Homo sapiens: one gene and its partners. The protein of the gene in region 3 purifies or fractionates together with the protein of the main gene of each other region. This does not show direct contact. Each region holds a gene or a part of one and is shown on either strand. Other genes may lie near its edges.

Evidence for each region.
Region 1: the proteins of GRK5 (region 3) and DHX15 purify together in Homo sapiens (affinity purification with mass spectrometry, with the first as the bait; one large-scale study listed by BioGRID). This does not show direct contact.
Region 2: the proteins of GRK5 (region 3) and GOT1L1 purify together in Homo sapiens (affinity purification with mass spectrometry, with the first as the bait; one large-scale study listed by BioGRID). This does not show direct contact.
Region 4: the proteins of GRK5 (region 3) and NFIB purify together in Homo sapiens (affinity purification with mass spectrometry, with the first as the bait; one large-scale study listed by BioGRID). This does not show direct contact.

What each region holds. Positions count from the first base shown.
Region 1 is NC_000004.12:24,578,055-24,581,554, forward strand, and holds part of DHX15 (ATP-dependent RNA helicase DHX15), read right to left. Parts: intron 1-3,500.
Region 2 is NC_000008.11:37,933,781-37,937,124, forward strand, and holds the end of GOT1L1 (putative aspartate aminotransferase, cytoplasmic 2), read right to left. Parts: intron 3,278-3,344; coding exon 3,185-3,277; intron 3,091-3,184; coding exon 2,940-3,090; intron 2,090-2,939; coding exon 1,924-2,089; intron 1,675-1,923; exon of another isoform or gene 1,520-1,674; intron 1,436-1,519; coding exon 1,293-1,435; intron 707-1,292; coding exon 513-706; 3' UTR 501-512; downstream 1-500.
Region 3 is NC_000010.11:119,214,071-119,217,570, reverse strand, and holds part of GRK5 (G protein-coupled receptor kinase 5), read right to left. Parts: intron 1-3,500. UniProt on the Homo sapiens protein: Serine/threonine kinase that phosphorylates preferentially the activated forms of a variety of G-protein-coupled receptors (GPCRs).
Region 4 is NC_000009.12:14,307,642-14,311,141, forward strand, and holds part of NFIB (nuclear factor 1 B-type), read right to left. Parts: intron 395-3,500; exon of another isoform or gene 282-394; coding exon of another isoform or gene 267-281; intron 1-266.

The DNA.
Region 1 (3,500 bases), on a different chromosome or scaffold from region 3:
GAAAAGTGATTTTCCCCTCTTCCATCCCAATGTTCACCTTCTACAAAAATCACAGAGCATACAAGCCAGAACTGTATGAAGCCTCTCATTTCACCTGGCATAAACAGAAAGAAAATCAATGGGAAAGAAAAGTCAAAGGATAACTTAATAAACATAAAATGAAGTCTCACAATTCAATACTTGAGAGTCTGGACCTATCTTCTGAAATATGCCATCAACTATCTTTGCTTCTCCTGCTTCTGGCCTAAGGTGACTGTTAATTAAGTGTTTACATTGCTCCAAAATGCCAACGAGGTGTAGTTTATAATAAGAGTACACAGAAATGTGCCCAGCAAAGTAAGAAGCACTGTACTCACAAATGGTTCAAATACTTGACACCTTAAAGATCATGGATCATACAGCTAGAAAAGAACTCTTAAAGAACATCTGGTCTGAACAAAAAGGATTCATGTTTCTAGTATTCACTCAACCATGGGGGAAGGAGGAGATGACAAAAAATATAATTGAAACAACTTCCTTTTTTTTGAGATAGGATCTTGCTCCATTACCCGGGTTGGAGTGCAGTGGCTCACTGGATCATGGCTCACTGCAATATCAAACTTCTGGGTTCAAGTGGTCCTCTCACCTCAGCCTCCCGAGTAACTGGGACTACAGGCATGCACCACCACGCCTCGCTAATTTCTTATTTTTGTAGAGATAAGGGTCTCACCATGTTGCCCAGGATGGTTTTCAACTCCTGGGATCAAGCAATCTCTTGCTTCAGCCTCCCAACGTGCTGGGATTACCGATGAGCTACCATGCCCAGCCTAGTTTAATGATTTCTATACTTCTAGCATAGTACCAGGCAATTAAGACATGGTCAAGAGTTACAAAATTTGGGGGAAGAGAGGTGACAAAGTAAATCATGTATTATATATTGCCTTAGTTTGTTAAAGTAATACCTATACTAACAAAGATTTTTTCAGGGGCCCACTTCATCAGATGCTTCATTACCAAACCAAACAAAGGATGTATAAAATACATTCTAAAGATAAAAGGTTAGCTGCTGATCAAGCAATGGCGACAGCTGTGGTATTAAGATAAAAGGAATGCTGGAATCACCATTGCAAGACACTGCCTCAATTTACTGATCTGCAAAATGAAGAGCATTTTCAGATACTTTTAGTCTCAGATTAAAGTAAGAAAACAGGGAGGATGCAGGAGGCAAATTCAGACACCTGGAAATGTTGCTTATGGCTCAAACTACCTTCCTTCGATGAGAGAGGGAGTACAAATGAAAGGTGAGTAAAAGGGGAAAATCAAACCCTCCACTTCATAAATATTTGTCAACTATTGTGCACATGCGTGTTTTCTTTTTTAAAAGATACTTTTTATTATAAAGGAGTTTTGTTCTTAAAAGTTTACTAGTTGAAGTATAAGGGTTTTTAAAAACTGGTATCAAGTCAGTGCTTCAGACACAGCCACACCACGAGCAGGGAGGGAGGTATGACATGACACAGTTGTTGAACATACTGCTCTGTACTGTGTCTCAGTTCAATCTTGGCTCAAGACTTAAGCCAACTATAGGATCACAGTTATTTCTTCCCTCACCTATAAGATGTGGCTATCAATATGTTTTGTAGAGTATAGATAGGATTAAATGAGTTAATATATGTGATGTGCTTTAAGTGTTGTCTGGCACATTGCAAATGCCCAATATCGGTTGTTGTTGTTATTATTACTATTATTTTGAGACGGAGTCTTGCTCTGTCACCAGGCTGGAGTGCAGTGGTGCAATCTCAGCTCACTGCAACCTCTGCCTCCCTGTTTCAAGCGATTCTCCTGCCTCAGCCTCCAGAGTAGCTGGGACTACAGGCACATGCTGCCACACCCAGTTAATTTTTGTATTTTTAGTAGAGACGAGGTTTCACCATGTTGGCCAGGATGGTTTCAATCTCTTGACCTCATGATCTGACTGCCTCGGCCTCCCAAAGTGCTGGGATTACTGGCATGAGCCACCGCGCCCCACCAATATTGGTTATTATTAAAGATCTTTTTAAGTTCTAATACCATGTTAAAATTCTACATGGAGGGCAAGACCTAGTGACTCACGCATGTAATCCCAGTGCTTTGGGAGGCCCAAGTGGGAGGATCACCAGAGGCCAAAAGTTTGAGACCAGCCTGAGCAATACAGTGAGACCCCATCTCTACAAAAAAATTTTAAACTTAGCTAGGTGGGGTGGCACGCCTGTAGTCCCAGCTACCTGGGAGGCTGAGACGGGAAGATCACTTGAGCCCTGGAATTTGAGACTGCAGTGAGCCATGATCACACCAGTGCACTCCAGCCTGGGAAACAGAGGAAGACCCTGTCTCTAAAAAATAAAAAAATTCTACATGGAATAATAACAGGCACTGAAGTACTGCTAAGGAAGACATTAACTGGTCATCAAAATCATGATATTTTAAATAAGCATTGCTTTTTTTTTTTTTTTTTAAAGACAGTCTACCTCTGTTACCCAGGCTGGAGTGTAGTGGTGCAATCTCGACTCACTGCAACCTCTGCCTCCCAGGTTCAAGCAATTCTCCTGCCTCAGCCTCCGGAGTAAGTAGCTGGGATTACAGCAGTGCGCCACCATGCCCAGTGTATTTTTGTATTTTTAACAGAGACAAAAATAGGTTTTATTACCTTGGCCAGGCTGGTCTTGAACTCCTGACCTCAGGTGATCCATTCGCCTAGGCCTCCCAAAGTGCTGTGATTACAGGTGTGAGCCATCACACCCGGCAATAAGCACTGCTTTTTATCCGTCAATCTTATTTCCAGGAACCTCTCAAGGATGTGTGCAAATACGTATGTATAAGGATGTTCATCAAACTTCTCATTTATAAAATAGCAACAAGTGGAAAACTACCTAAATATCAATGAACAGGATATTGGTTAAATAAGTGATGTCATACCTTTACAACTGGAGTACTATGGCAGTCAATCTATTTATTTTTTATTATTTTTTTTTTTTTGAGATGGAGGCTCGCTCTGTTGCCCAGGCTGGAGTGCAGTGGCACAATCTCGGCTCACTGCAAGCTCCGCCTCCCGGGTTCATACCATTCTTCCTCAGCCTCCCAGAGTAGCTGGGACTACAGGTGCCCGCCACCACACCCGGCTAATTTTTTGTATTTTTAGTAGAGACAGGGTTTCACCGTGTTAGCCAGGATGGTCTTGATCTCCTGACCTCGTGATCCACCCGCCTCGGCCTCCCAAAGTGCTGGGATTACAGGCGTGAGCCATTGCGCCCGGCCTATGGCAGCCAATTTAAAAGCGTAATGTGTACCTACAGTTAATGACATTTCTGAGTGGAAAAAAAAATCAAAGTACAAAATAACACGCGTTGATCCCACTGATATTAAATTTTATAGTTCATATTTTTGAGTCAATATGCAGAGATCTTAGAAAATGTTCACCAAAAACTGTTATCCAAAGATGGAGATGAAGATTTTAGGGAATGCCTTCTTTAAACCTTTGAGTA
Region 2 (3,344 bases), on a different chromosome or scaffold from region 3:
GTTGTTATTGACCTAGGATATCCTTCCAGCTTCTATTAGTTATTATTCATCCAATCCATTCATCTGTCTATCAATATCCCAATCAAGTGCTACCTCCTCATGAGATGCTCCCCATCTATTCTGGCCCACTTTGACGTATTTCTTTTCTAAATTCCTGGCACATTTTCTGTTTATATATTCTGACTTCTGTCACATTCAGCCTTAAAATGTTACTTAAGTGTTTTATGTGACTAAGGCTTGTCTCCCAACTAGACTGTAAGTGTCTGGAGAAAACAGGCTGGTTTCTACCTGTTTTTTGTACTCCCTTTCACGGCCAGCTCAGGGCCTTAATGTAGTAGGTGCTCAATAAATATGAGATGGCCAATGAAGGTAGATACACCCTTCCCCTCTGGGCCTTTCTCTCTCTCTTTCTCTCTGTCTCTTTCTCTGTACTGAGGCCAGACCACTGCTTCATAAATAAGCAAAGAAATGAATTGTAGTAATGAATAATCAGCACAAGATTTTTGCAAAGACTAAAGTTTTATTCCAATCAGTGTTTTTTTTTCCTTTGGAAGACACATCTCTGAGCTCTCTGTGAGGAGGACAGCCTCATTGATGCCCTCAGTGATGTAATTTATGTTGTTGGCATTGATACAGCTGAAGTTAATCTGACCGTTCTTGGGGATATAGATGTGCTTCTTCCTGACCAGGTATTCCACCTGCTGGGCTAAAATCATGACAAGGTCTCAGATCTCGAGACTGGCCATCTCGAATTCTCCTCTAGCCCAGGCTGGTTTATTTTCTTATTTTTTTATTGATTGATTGATTGAGATGGAGTTTTGCTCTTGTTGCCCAGGCTGGAGTTCAATGGTGCAATCTTGGCTCACTGCAACCTTCGCCTCCCAGGTTCAAGCGATTCTCCTGCCTCAACCTCCCAAGTAGCTATGATTACAGGATGCACCACCATGCACGGCTAATTTTCATATTTTATTTTTTAGTAGAGACGGGGTTTCACCATGTTGGCCAGGCTGGTCTCGAACTCCTGACCTCAGGTGACCCACCCGCCTCGGCCTCTCAAAGTGTTGGGATTACAGGCATGAGCCACTGCACCGGGCACCCAGGCTGGTTTATGAAGGATAGGGAGTGTCGGTACTTCTGGGGGTCCAGAAGTGTCTTTAAAGCAGCCCATTTTCCAGAGGACAGAATCAAAATCTGGAGTGAAGCTAGGAACTGGTCACCTAGTCAGTGAAGTTTAATGCTCAAATACAGGCCAAAGGTCAGAAAGGGGGGACACCAGCCCCCTAGACCCTTACAGTTGAGTCCAAGATAGCCGTGGGTCCCACTCTGCTCGGTGATGTGACCCCAGGACCCAGGGGTTCCCAGGAGCTGGAGTTTCTCCTTCACTTTTTCCTTGGTTAGCATGATGTTCTCTACAACTTCTTTTAGACTCTGCTTCCTACCAAGGAAGGACAATGAGAAAGGAGGGTGTGAGGTCCCCCTTGCCCTCAAACCTCCCTCATTGCCAGTCCACTCTTCTTACCTTCAAAGGTCTCCAACAGAGTGCCAGAGGCTCTGGGATGATTATGAGTGGGAGGGAGGTTTGATCTCATATTCATTTAAGCAAACCAGGGAGGCTCCCAGGCAGATTTTGCCAGAGTTGCAAGCCCCTGATGCTCTCTTATCTCCCCAAGCAATCTGGAAGAGTTCATATAACTCATTGGCCTGGGTGCAAAACAAATGTCCTATCACTCTGTCCCCTAAGGCAACCCTTGGCATAGCCACCGCCATTGGTACACATCAGGTCCTTAGTAAATGTTGATGAATGAATGGAGTAAAAAGGCCACATGGGCAGGAGAGAAGCACCCTGCCGAATCCTGCAGATCAGCAGGTCTGCAGGCACCCAGGGCCTCTCCCATCCCTTCCTGCTCCAGCCCTCACCCTTACCATTCTCCCAGCAGAGCAGGGTTGCAGAGGATGGAGGTGATGACACGTGCACCCGTGTTGGGGGGGTTTAGCCACAGGGCCTGGGCTAATCCTTCCAGCTGGGAGAGGACACACAGCAGCTGCTGGTTGTTGACTGCCACCACCACTAGCATCCCCACTCCTTCATCTGCAGTGTTGGGAAGACAGCCTCAGCCTCAGCCCCTTCCTCCACTCCCAAGGCCTTCACCTAGATCTCAACCCCCAACCTTGCAGAAGAAAGGGTTGAACCACAAGGCCCTCATTGCAGCCCAGCCAGGGTGATATTCAGGCTCCGGGAAGTTGCCAGAGGCTCTCCTTCCAGCAAAAGTACCCATAAGTCAGAGTCTTAAAGGAGGAAGGAATTTGAAAGATCACTAAGTTCTACTCTCCTGTTTTTTCCTTTCCTTTCCTTTTTTATTTTTATTTTTATTTTTATTTGTTTAAAGTGACCATCTCTCTCTGTTGCCCAGGCTAGAGTGCAATGGTGGAATCATAGCTCACTGCAACCTCTACCTCCTGGGCTTAAGCAATCCTCCTGCCTCAGCCCCCCGGGTGGGTAGGACTACTGGTGTGTACCACCATGCCCGACTAATTTTTTTAATTGTTTGTAGAGACCGGGTCTCGGTGTGTTGCCCAGGCTGGTCTTGAATTCCTGGCCTCAAGTGATCACCTAACCTTGACCTCCCAAAGGAGGGATTAGGAGGTGTCAACTGGGATTACAGGTGTCACCCACCATGCCAGCCCCACCCTCTCATCTTATAGTTGAGGAAACAGAGGCCTGAGGGGGTGAAATGATCCAAGCCAAGCTGGGTTGGGTTCTGTTACTAGATTTAGTAACAGAACCAAATTCTAGCTCAGTGCTCCCCACTTCTGCTTCTATAGTGCTCTCCCTAGAGTCCTTGGCTCCCTCCCAAGGATGAGATATCAAAAACATCACTGTGCTGTGAGCGCAGCACCACTTCAGCAACAGACCCTCCCTTCTTCTGCCTGTACCATACCATAAATGCCAAAATTCTTGGACAGAGACTGGCTGCAGAAGAACTCAAAGCCTTGAGACACAAAGTATTGTAAGATTCTAGTATCTTCTTCCAAGTCACTGGTGTATAAACCTTGACAGGGAATATCAAAAAATGGGAATATCTGCTTGCTCTGTAGGAGAAAGGAGAACAAAAAAAGAATGAGACAGATGGAGGAGAGAGCAGAGAGTCAAAGACAGGAAGGTCGGGTGGGAGATTGGGTTTACCTTTATCATGGACATCAACTTTGCCCACCCACTTGGTGTCAACTTGCAGTCGATAATGTTCCCCATCACAAGGACACAGCCATGTGGGATCTGCTGCAGGTACAGACGGTCTCATCAGGCTTCACCCCCACCCAGGAGTGGCGGCCCCAGGGCATTTGGG
Region 3 (3,500 bases):
CCATGCTGAGGGGAAAAATAACGCAAGAGGCTGGCCTCGCTTGTCCGATGTGTTGGTAGGAGGGGCCCAGGCAGCGAGAGAGTACAGGTAATGGGCCTCCACAGGCGATCATACCACATACGTACACATGTGCTTATGTGTGTACAGGCACTTATGTATGGCATGTAGGCATCCTGCCTTGTCCTCAAACACAGATTCAGTTGTATTGATACACAGTTCTACTTTTAAAATGGAAACATCTACTTTGAGGATTCACCTATCAGTCATTTACAACCTAGTAGGAATTAATTTACCCAACTGCTCTCAAACTGGCCCTCAGCTGAAATCACGGTCTGAGACAGAAATTATATTCCCAATTTGCCCCTTTTCCCAGGGAATCTGACAAAGACACTCTTTCTCTTCCACAATTACAACCTCATGGGTATTTACACTTAAAAACCCTACCATCTCGAGAAGAGTTTGTTGTTTTGGCATATATTATGAGAGGAAGGAAGAAAGATTTATTTTGGAACATAAAAGCACTTTGGAGGATAGGGGAGATCCACTTGCAATTGCTCCCCAAAAGTCCACAGTTCAAGTGACCTTGAACAAGTGACTCCCTTTTTTTATTTTTATGTTTTTTTTTAAATTATTATTTTACCTTTTAGACGGAGTTTCGCTGTTACCCAGGCTGGAGTGCAGTGGCACTCCCAGGTTCAAACAATTCTCCTGCCTCAGTCTCCCAAGTAGCTGGGATTATTATAGGCACCCACCACCACATCCAGGTAATTTTGTATTTTTAGTAGAGATGGGTTTTCACCACGGTGGTCAGGCTGATCTTGAACTCCTGACCGCAAGTGATCCACACACCTTGGCCTCCCAAAGTGCTGGGATTACAGGCGTGAGCCACCACGCCTGGCCATTTTTATTTATTTTTTATTTTTTGTAGAGATAGGGGTCTTGCTATGCTGCCCACGCTGGTCTTGAACTCCTGGCCTCAAGCAATCCTCCTGCCTCAGCCTCCCAAAATGCTGGGATTACAGGCGTGAGCCACTGCACCCGGCCCTGACTCCCTTTCTTTCATCTCAGTTTCCCCATCCGTTAAACCAAGGGTAACCTCTATGCCGGAAACAGAGGACAGGGCAGCAGATCAGCTGAGAAGGCTCAGGGAAGCCGAGGCACCAGTGGCCCTGTGGCCTCTGCCACTTCAGGACAGAGGCATGTTCTTATCTGTTTATCTCAGCTTATCTGTTTACCCTTGCTTTCTGCACAGGCCCCAGAAGCTGTCCTTGGGGTTCATTTCATCATTACCTTTTTAAAAAAATTTTTGATATTCCACAGATTACAAGTTCTTAGAAACACAGTAGGCCCTATCAAAACTGGCCTAGTTTAGGAGGATGTCACCAGTTGACTCTGGTACGTCAGATAGACTCCCTTGCTTCGGACACCAGGGAACAAGCAATGAACTGTTTTATTGTTTCAAACACTTTCTTTCTAAGTGTGCTCTGAGTTATTGTTAAAATGTTTCAAATCTCACAAGAAACAGTTTTTAAGGAGAAAACCATTTTCAAGTGGATACAAGAACAGTGAGTTTCTTTGGCATCTTTAAGTATACCTTCTTCCTGATGTCTTCCCAGCTCAGAAAAAATGAAAACCCTTAAAATGGTTTTGCCTGTCTTCACCCCCATTTTAGATCACCTGCCTGTGGAGGTTTCTTTCTATTCTTTCTGTAGATCTGCCGCACTTATGCAACTTAATTGTTTTTTTAAATAAAATGACTGCTTTAAAATAGCCCCACATTAAGAATTTCAAGAAGGAACATGGGGCTCTGTATGTATCTATATCATGCACTTAATTTGAATCAGGAAAGTCAGTTGCTCAATTTAGGCAAATTTCCCAACAAGATATTGAAAAAGGGGGTGGGGGAGGATATGGTAGCTTAACCCCCTCCACCCCCGCCACCATCCATGATTGTCCCTGACCTGAATTTCCTCTTAGGTGAGTCAGTCCCAACTCCCAACCCCTGCCTTCACCCCTCCTCCATGGTGCAGCCCCCTCCCCTTCCTCAGTCTCTTCCTCACTCTCCGCACCCCCTTCCCTATTTTCTCCTTCTCCTACCCATTTCCCCCTCTCATCTCTCCTTCTCCCCCTCCTCCACACTGTCTCTCTCCCCAACTCCCTGCCTCCCTCTGCTTCTTTTAATTTTCCCTAATTTTTCATGTCAGAAGTCATGGGGTTATCACACTCACTAAATGCACAGAATCCTCTAGAGAAGCTCTGTCCCGATGAGCTTTCTGCAATGATGGGAATGTTCTATATGCATGGCCCAATACAATGGCCACTAGCCACACATGGCTACTGAGCACTAGACATGTGGTTTGCATGCTTCAGGAACATAATTCCTAACTTTAATTAATTTAAGTATAAATAACAACATACAGCTAGTGGCTACTACGTTGAACAGAGCCCCTGAAGAGGAACAGGTACCTTTAATCTTTTCGGTCATTCCCTGTGACAGGCTATGTCAAAGGACATACCCAGGCCAATCCCAACAGAAAGCCAGAAAAGAATGCAGCCTCCACCGTCTTCACTCCAGAACTGCAGCCCGTCTACCCGCCCAGGCCTCTGCCCTGAACACCTGCTCTGCCTGGAAGGCGCCATGGCACACCAGTTTTCCTCTTGGATCTTGTCATTCCTCAACCAAAGGGTCTTCTTGCCATTGTTTTTAATGGTTTCCATTTCTAGGAACAGACCTTCATAAAAACAGTGTTGGCCGGGCGTGGTGGCTCACACCTGTAGTCCCAACATTTTGGGAGGCCAAGGTGGATGGATTGCTTGAGCCCAGGAGTTTAGAGACCAACCTGGGCAACAGGGCGAAACCCCATCTCTACAAAAAATACAAAAATTAGCCAGGCATGTTGGCACGAGCCTATAGTCCCAGCTACTCAGGAGGCTGAGGTGGGAGGATCACTTGAGCCCAGGAGGTCGAAGTTGCAGTGAGCTGAGATGGCACCACTGCACTACAGACTGGGTGACAGCAAGACCCTGTCTCAAAAAACAAAACAAAACAAAAACCCCTCAGTGCCCCAGAAAATTAGCAGTTGTCTTCCAGATTCAGGTCTATCCCTCAAGTATAACCTTTTAATTATGCTTAAATCACATACTGGTCCCTCAGGCCATTGTCCAAATTCTAGGCACAGTAGAGTCAATGCAGTCTACACAGCTAAGGAGGTCACACCCCAGTCAGCCTCAGCTCTTCGGGGAAAAAAATCCAGTTCTGTTCACACCTAGTTGATCAGTTAAAAAACATCAAAAGAGACTGAGTGCAGTGGCTCATGCCTGTAATCCCAGCACTTTGAGAGGCCAAGGCAGGCAGATCACCTGAGGCCAGGAGTTTGAGACCAGCCTGGCCAACATGGCGAAACCCCGCCTCTACTAAAAATACAAAAATTAGCCAGGCTTGATGGTGGGCGCCTGTAATCCCAGCTACTCAGGAGGCTGAGGCAGGAGAATCGCTTGAA
Region 4 (3,500 bases), on a different chromosome or scaffold from region 3:
ATAACATTCCTTTCTTATTTAAAATTATCAAAATAACAGGACAAGAAGAAAGTAAAGTATGCCCAGCTGTCCCCTTTCCACCAAAATTCACAGGTCAATTCTCCCTCCTATAAAGGAAATAAGGTTTATATTTTGTATTACACTCTGGCCCCATCCCCCTTGTTTCCACCCCAATGCCATGCATTCTACATTCTTTAAAATATAGGCAACTAACTAAGGTGCTTGGCACCTAATATAGTATTTCAATATTTGATTGACCAACTAACACTATGCAGTACCATTTTACAAAGAACACAGTGAGATTTTTTTTTTTTAATCGGAGTAGAGCTGTTCAGAAGGCAGGAGCGATGCCACAGTTCATTTCTCTTCTCTGTGGCACAGAAACACAAAGCATATAGATGCTCAGTGTAATGCCACACAGTTCCCGCTTTTGGAGCATGCTCTCAGCAAGAGGCTGCTGGTGGCACAAAGAGCATGCGCCATTAAACTTGATCCATTTTCTTATCAAACGTCCAACATTCCAACACTGAAACAGCACCATTCCAAAAGTGGTAACTAGAGAAACCGGTATACAGTGAGGGAAAGTGGGCAAAGGACACAGCTCGTCGTATCAGTGTCCTGAACAGAAGGTTTCCATACTTTGAGCAGTGCATTCTCTCCCCACACTACCAACGCCAGCTCCCAACACACACACACACACACTTGCACTCTCCTGCTTTCTCACACACACTCTTGCATTTTTAAATAGAAGTTTTCAAACTGGAAAACAAAAATTACATGAATGTTCTTCCATCAGCTTCCCTATAGAATATGCAGCCCCACAGAGTCCGTTAATTTGTTCACCGATCACATGAGTATAGCAATTATTCTAAACCTCTTAAAAATCAATCTGAGGTGAACAATGAAAAATGGCAACTTGGCACCAACTTTACATTCTTTGTGTCTCTGCATGCTGTGGTGGGGTGACACTGCTGGTCAGTTACTGCTTTTGTGGAATCTATACAATTCATTTGCCATGTAGATGAATTATCAGTTAGAACTGTGGGTGCATATATGCATGTGCATGTGAATTTGCAGATACATAGATTATAGAGTACCAATCTTTTGAATTAAGTAGTTTACCTTTAGGCTCCTGCATTTTTCCTGCCTGTTTCATCCAAGCCCTTTTTTTAAGGGAGGGGATCAGTGAGGAATGGTGGATAATCTTTACCTACAGATATTTCAAGTTACTTCCCAGTGCAGTCAGTTTCGTTACTTCCTGATTTAGGTAAAACCTGTCTTATAAGCTTAGGCCTATTACTGTTCAAAGAGAAAGAGCTTAACGTCCTGTACATGCACACCGCATGTACGCAATAAGCCAAGATTTGAAGCAAATGAGAACTTCCACCACCACCACTTTTCTGATCATATTGACTATACTGTCAGCCCAACGACAAAATAACTCTCTGATTGTATCCCAAGTTAGAATTTACATACTCATGTTAATCACCCTGAACTACGTGGAATAAATTCTATTTAACAGCAGACTGACTAATTAATTCCATTAGGTAAATATGATGAAAGTACAACTAATGACTCTTTAACAAAGAAGGTGTCAAAAATCCAATATAGATATGAATACATTTTGAAGAAGAAATTCGAAGTTTTAATGCTACAGACTGCAACATGTTAGCTGTTTGCACTTCAGATATGGAAGGAGTACATGTCCCATCCAATCAATAATGTAGTTATCAAGTGTTCTAACATTGCTGTAAGTGTTCCTTCACCAGAATAAGTATGAATCAAAATTTTATAACAATACAGAATGCTGATGATTACATCACAGCATGAGGCATACCCAAATGCCATAGAGGAAATCATTAAACCGATCAGTAGTTTCCAGCAGAGATTTGAACAATTCAGTTACTATGCGAGCACATTAAACTAGGCCATGGAAAGAGTTAAACCACAATCTGTTCTTTGTGTGGGAAGGCAGCCCTGCTCACAGCAACCACATCCCATGATAAGACCTCCCTATCTCCATACACTTTCTGATGCCATGCTTTTAGCTTTCACTGTAACTACAAAAACTTTGTTTATCCCCTTTAGGAATATATGCAAAAGGAAAGCCTGCTCAAGGAAATGTGGACTTAAATGTGCTTTGGAAACTCACTTCCTATAATCTTTTACTACGATTTATTGATATGACTAAAAAACACACATATATGCACTCACAAAACTAAAACCTTGAGAATGTAAAGAGCACATGAGGTGGAGTGGGTGGGCTCTGTCTCACTCATTTTACCCTTGCCATGCTTTTTAAAATGCAATATTATTTTATAAATATTAAGCCATGTGGTAACACGTAAGTACTTACACCTTAAGTACTATGTTCAGTGACATTTCATTTTCTTATAAAGACATCAAACACAGTTTTGATTAAATTTGAGTTTCAATATTTGATTATAAATATAATCTATCACACAAGAAAGCTCAAAATTTTAATGAGTTATTTTAAACAACCAAAATTCAAATTTGAAGGTTGAATTTGAAAATTCTTAGCAAATGCACACAGTTTTTAAACGTTCCTTTGACTTTGCTGTCAATGCTGCCAATATTGTTTTAAAACATGCTCTTTTTTTTGAGAAATAAAAGTAGCAAACTTTCTCAGGCTGCCAGTTTGCCTTATTGATATCGTTCAGGGTTTCACTATTATGTGAATTCAAGTGAAGCACTTATTTGACAAGGGGACATATCCTCCAAAAATGACTGTAAATTGAGGTTTGCTGTAAGTCGCATATATTTCTGTATTAACATGCCTAAATGTCATCTCCCAAGTGTGACTGTTTCCTAATGCTGAGTAACACTAGAGTCTTAAAGATTATGAGTGACATGAATATGGAACATAATAACTGTCCTGATACAAAAATATTTTTTTAAAAGGTGATTAAGGTTTTCAAATATCCTAACTAGTAGTGGATTATTACAATAGCATTAAGCAATCATAAATTCTTTAAAAAAAGCAAAACATATAAGTGATTTAAAACCAAACAACTGTATACAAAGGTAATAGGCAACTTTGCTCTTTCAGAATTTTTAGTAAAATGCATTGATGTTCAGTAATTCTCTTTTAAAACTTCCTTTAGTTGAACTAAATTGACAAAGTAAATAACAAAGTTACCAATTTCAGATATAAAAATAAAGAGTCTTAATTCCACTAGGCATATTTATTTTTCTTCCGTTTCCATGAAAGGGATGGATAATTTAGACCAACATAGAGGTAGAAGAGTAAATACTAGGTGCTCTTGGCGCATTGCTATATAACAACAAATCATGCAAAAAATGTACCTAAAGAACTTAAAAGCAACGAAAGAAAAATATATTTAATGCCATCATGCCAATTGAAAGTTATATTATTAATGGTTTACATTATTTTTAAACATATATTAAATCATATGATAGTTCTTAATTTTTCCTTTATATCTGATTTATACTGGTGTATAAATATTGGTTATTGATAT